Regions from separate parts of the Homo sapiens genome. Here region 2 is linked to region 1. The links come from fine-mapping of genetic effects on gene expression. A gene starts in region 1. The other region holds a variant in brackets. All regions are shown on one strand. Distances are from middle to middle.

Region 1 (2,783 bases):
ACAACATGGTGCTATTTTGCAACCATGACAAATGCTGGCAATAATGCGAACATTTACTGAACGCCATGTGGCAAGCCCAGTGGTATGCGCTTGACAAGCATGGCATCTTCAGGCCACCTCTGAGGTAGGTACTGTCATCATTATACGATTTTACGGATGAGGAAAGTGAGGCTGGAGAGTCTAACCCCTCCAAAGGCAAACACAGCAAGAAGGGCACGAATATGAACTCAGGTCTGCCCCCAAAGCCAGAGTATTTAACAACTTCTTCAAACTGTTCTCAAGGAAGAGTCGCCAAACCCCACAAAAATCACTCGATCACCCCTCTTCAGCATACAAAATGTAAAGCATCCGAACAGCCTGCACCTGCAACTTTACAGACCAAGTTGTAAGCTCTCTCTACTCCCACAAAAAAAGGGTGGGCTAGCGTGGGGTGGGGGGAGAAGGCAAGAATCGGTTCCCAGCAAAGTAAAAAGCGAGAAAAGGGCCAAGCGCCCACGAAAGAAACCAATCTAAACTCGAAGCAAAGGGACCTAAATGCTTTAGAACTAAAACGGCAGAAAACCAACCAAGAAAACGAAAATGAATTCAGCAGAAGACCGACACAAGGTAACAGAGCGCCGGTGCAAAGGAAGCGGTCACAACGGATGCTGTATTTTATTAAAACCACACAGGCAGACCAAGAAAGTCGCAAGAGTTGAAGGAAAAATGCAAAGTCGGCTCCACAGACCTCTGGTTTTCAGACCCGCTGCTCGGGGTGAAAGGCAGAGCGCGGCCCGCACCTTCTCTCGTTAAATAGCCATTCGAAACGCCACAGAGAACGAAAGGGCTGAGGAAAGTGTCCGCGCCTCCGGGACCGCCATCGAGTTACCACCACTCGCTTGCTGGGCGCGGCGCGTGGAGGGGGCGCTGGTGCGACTCGGCTGCCCTACTTGCCGTCGGCACCCAAGTTTGTGCCAAGTCACAACGCGCGTTATCGGCAGCAGCAACGCCACTTCAGCCTCGCCGCCGCGGCGCCGGCACTTATCGGCGCCCACGTCCCGCCCCGCGCGTCCGGGAAGGTTCCGCGCCGGGCCCCGCCCGTCCTCACCTGCCCAGCTCCCGGCCCGGGCACAGGCTGTAGCCGTCCTGGAAGGGCTCGGTGCGCACCACGGCGCGTATCTCTGTCAGCAGCCCGCGGGCCTGGGGCGGCGGCGGCGGCCGGCACGGCCCGCTCAGACCCCGGCCTGCCCGGCCCGAGCCTGAGGTGGCGCCTGGGGAGGAGCCGCCGCTGCCTGGCTTCTCCAAAGGGATCATGGTGTTCAGGCCCGCTTCTTTCCTGGCCGCCTGTTCACTCCGAGCAGCCGGAGGGTCACGGACCCGCCCCCGGCTCCTAGTGCCGGTCCGCGGAGCCTTCAAACACCCGCTCTCCCCAGCGCGGCGCTCGGACTGCGGCAGGCAGACTACCGGTAGCTCGGGCCCGCCCCGCGCCCCGCGACCGGCCCCGCCCCCGTGACCGCCCCGCGCCTGCCCTGCACCCTGCTTCTGGCCCCGGCCAACCCCTCCCCACGTCCGCCCCGCGCCCGACCCCGCCCCGGCCTCACTCCGTGGCCGCCCGCCCCCTCGCTGAGCTCCCGCGGGGTCCTGAGCGCCCGATGCCTCACGCGCGCCCTCTGCAGCTCAGGGGGAGAAGGTGCAGCTTTCGGGACGGCCCGGAGGCTGGAGGCGACTCACAGCACCACCCTTTGGCCAGGACAGCCTACTGCGTTAGCAGAGTTGCGCACCTGTTGAGCGTCTGAGAGTCACAAAAGCTGACCTTCGGTTAATAAAAGGCATTTGAGCTGTAAGCGGGACTTCACGTGGTGAGGAGGGGAGGGGTCTGGAGGCACTTCGGTTAATAAAAGGCATTTGAGCTGTAAGCAGGACTTCACGTGGTGGGGAGGGGTGATGAGATCCTGATCTCCGTACACTGGGAGAGGGGTCTGGAGGCAGAGTTGTATAAATATTATTAACCCTGCACACCGGCCCTATGAAATAGACACTATTATATTGTCTGTAGTCGTCTCTATATTTACTTTCGAGGTCCTCTCATCCGGTCTTACGACTTTAATTACCATCTATATGCTCATGACTACAGAATTTGTATCTCTAGCTTCCAAATATTCCCTGAACTTCAGACTGGTGTATTTGACTATGCATTTGGCATCTCCACTTACATGTCAAATTAGCATCTCAGACTTAACATACACAAAAGTAAGTTGCTGATTGGTCTTCATGAATGCACTCCTACCCAGCTTTCCCCGTCTCAGTTTTCTTCATCTCCTTCCTTCTAGCTGTTCAGGCCAAAAATCTTGGGATGAGCATTGATTCCTCTCTCATGCTCATCTCCAGTTTGTCAGTAAACCCTCTTGTCTTTTCCTTCAAACTAGATGCGGCGTTTGATCACTTCTCTCTATTTCCACCTTACCACCATGGCCTGAGCCATCGTTATCTCTTACCTGGATTATTGTGATAGTTTACTAACTGGACCACCTGCTTCCATCCTTCTTTCTCCCTAATGTCGCATAGTTCATTTTCAAGGCAATGAGAGTGATCTTTTAAAAATCGAAACCAAATCACACCACTGCTCTACTCAGACTGTCTCAGTGGAGTTTTGCTTCTGGCACTGATATACTAGTTTATTTGTGTTCAATATTCTCACTAAGAAAAAATAGAAAAGTTGACAAAAGTTAAAAATTTCCTCTCCCAGCAAGGACTTGGATGACTGAAATCCTGGAAAGATAGGCAGCTCAGAAAGCCACCACTTT
Region 2 (3,022 bases), 130 kb before region 1:
ATAGTTAATCATTAAGAAGGTAAACAAGCTTATATGAAGCAACATACTCTTTTTTTTTTTTTTTGAGATAGAGTCTTGCTCTGTTGCCCAGGCTGGAGTGCAGTGGCACGATCTCCGCTCACTGCAACGTCTGCCTCCCGGGTTCACGCCATTCTCCTGCCTCAGCCTTCCGAGTAGCTGGGACTACAGGTGCTTGCCACCACGCCTGGCATTTTTTTTTGTATTTTTAGTAGAGACGGAGTTTCACCAAGCAACATACCCTTAACATTCAATTTAAAGATGCTGTTTGATGCACTCAGATTAATTTGATCAATGTCAATGTTAAATGTATGAATTTTTTCCTGTATCAGGAATATTATGAAACAAAGTTCAAGACTATTGGAAAAGGCAAGTAATACTTGGTGTGTTTCAAGCTTTCATATTAAGAATGATAACTTCTAAATACAGTATTATCTTTCAGTTTTTAGAATGATTTTTATTTGGCATTTATTTTTGTATTAAATGTTTCCTTTTTTTTTTTTTTTTTTTTTTTTTTAGACAAGAGGCTCACTCTTTTGCCCAGGCTGGAGTGCAGTGGTGCAGTCTTGGCTTACTGCAACTGCTACCTCCCGGGCTCAAGTGATCTTGTGCCTCAGCCACCTGAGTAGCTGGGATTATAGGTGTGCACCACCATGTCCAGCTAAATTTTTTGTAGTTTTAGTAGACGAGATTTCACCATGTTGGCCAGGCTGGTCTCGAACTCCTGGCTGCAAGTGATCCATCTGCATTGGTTTCCCAAAGTGCTGGGATTACAGATGTGAGCCACTGTGCCCACCCTATTGTTTCTTTTTTAATTTCTTCTAGTATCCCGTGTCTGTGTCAGATACAAATCATTTTTATACATTTTCTCAATATATAATTTTTTTTTTTTTTGAGATGGAGTTTCGCTCTTGTAGCCCAGGCTGGAGTGCAATGGCACTATCTCAGCTCACTGCAACCTCTGCCTCCCGGGTTCAAGCAATTCTCCTGCCTCAGCCTCCCGAGTAGCTGGGATTACAGGCTTGCACCACCATACCCGGCTAATTTTTGTATTTCTTAGTAGAGATGGGGTTTCACCATGTTGGCCAGGCTAGCGTTGAACTCCTGACCTCAGGCAATCCACCCTCCTCGGCCTCCCAAAGTGCTGGGATTACAGGTATGAGCCACCACACCCAGCCTCA[A/G]TATATAATTTTTATACTGTATTGGTTCATACTAGTAATAAGCCATAGGTTTATAATTGTATCTTTATTTTTTAAACAGAAAATCTTTTAAAGTTTTAGTATAACTCTATTACAAAAAGATGATTCACTATTTATTTTTATTTTTAATTTTTTTAGAGACATGGTTTTGCTCTGTCACCCAGGCTGGAGTGCAGTGGCATGATCCTACCTCATTGCAACCTGGAAGTCCCGGACTCAAGTGATCCTCCCTCCTGAGTAGCTGGGACTATTGGTGCATACCACCGTGCCTGGCTAATTTTTTTTTCCTGCCATCTGTGTTTTAATATATTTTTTAAACAGAGTGCAGTGGTGTGATCTCGGCTCACTGCAACCTTTGTCTCTTTGGTTCAAGGAATTCTGCCTCAGCCTCTTGAGTAGCTGGGATTATGGGTGTGCGCCACCATGCCTGGCTAATTTTTGTATTTTTAGTAGAGACAGGCTTTCACCATGTTGGTCAGGCTGGTCTCGAACTCCTGATGTCAAATGATCTGCCCACCTTGGCCTCCCAAAGTGCTGGAATTACAGGCCTGAGCCAGTGCACCTAGCTCTAGACCCCCAGTCTTAATCATAAGCAAATACCCAAGGATTACCAGTTATTTGAGGAAAGCATCCAGCATCAAAGGTGGGTGGTGGGAATTAAGCAAAACAAAAAAGCAACTTGGAAGAAATACAGACTTTGCAGGGGAAAAAAACAGTTACCAACAATCTCCTACCCCAATTACAGATATATTCAGAGAGATGAGATGAAGATGAATAAAAACAGGATGCTCTATAAAGGACTAGCCATAAAACTTACCAGAGACTTGGGCAGGGAGAGGGGAAGGTAGGTAGGGAGAGGTCGTTCAAATGAGTACAAAGTTATAGTTAGGAGGAATAAGTTCTGGTATTCTATTCCACAGAAGGGTGATTATGGTTAATAGTAAGGTATTGTAGCAAAATTGCTAGAAGAGAGGCTTTTGAGTGTTCTTACCAGAAGGAAGTGATAAGTGCGTGAGATGATGGACATGCTAAATACTCTGATTTGATCATTATATAACATATATATGTATTGAGGCTGGGCATGGTGGCTCATGCCTGTATCCCCAGCACTTTGGGAGGCCAAGGTGGGCAGATTACTTGAGGTCAGGAGTTCAAGATCAGCCTGGGCAACATGGCAAAACCCCATTTCCACTAAAAATACAAAAATTAGCCAGGCATGGTGGTGCATCCTGTCATCCCAGCTATTTGGGAGGCTGAGGCAGGAGAATTGCTTGAGCCAGGAGGCAAAGTTTGCAGTGAGCTGAGATCACGCCACTGCACTCCAGCTTGGGTGACAGAACGAGACTCTGTCTCAAATAGCAAAAGAAAACAAGACAAAAAAACCATATATATGTATTTAAACCTCAAATTGTACCCCTCAAATATATGTAATGACAATGTGTCAATAAAAAAAAAAGTCCAGCTAGAAAATGAAAAAAGTTTAAAACATGATAGTGGAAATGAAAATCTTTGGAAGGTTGTAAGATAATGGTCAGGAAATCTCCTAAGAAGTAGGCAAAAAGACAGAGGACACTTAGCTGACTGTTCCTGAGGTTCAATGTTTATACAGTTGAGTTGCAGATAAAATAGGGGAAATGAAAAGGTGAAAATAATTCAAGAAAACGACCAACAGTAGAAGATTGAAGTTTGCAGATTGAATGTGCCTGCCATGTGTTCAGTCTAATAAATATACCCACACTGGGGCCCATCATTAGGAAATTTCAGGACACCGTGTGGTAAAGAGATGATTCTGGAGTGAAAAAAAC

What was found. PIP is the estimated chance that this variant, and not a neighbour inherited with it, causes the effect. A credible set is the group of variants that fine-mapping cannot tell apart.
Region 2: its variant is the best candidate, but not a certain one, in a credible set for the expression of STK17A in whole blood (INTERVAL, PIP 0.73).

Annotation. Positions count from the first base shown.
Region 1 is chr7:43,581,754-43,584,536 of GRCh38, reverse strand. It overlaps STK17A (serine/threonine kinase 17a), which reads right to left and starts at 1,429. Exons shown (of 7, transcript NM_004760.3): 1 at 1,088-1,429. The coding sequence starts at 1,293. RefSeq lists enhancers at 340-449, 580-629 and a silencer at 1,030-1,809.
Region 2 is chr7:43,712,520-43,715,541 of GRCh38, reverse strand. The region is part of intron 1 of COA1 (cytochrome c oxidase assembly factor 1); the gene reads left to right. Among named protein-coding and RNA genes, the nearest start is that of COA1, 15 kb to the left of the region's middle. The variant A/G (reference allele first, on the strand shown) is at 1,200.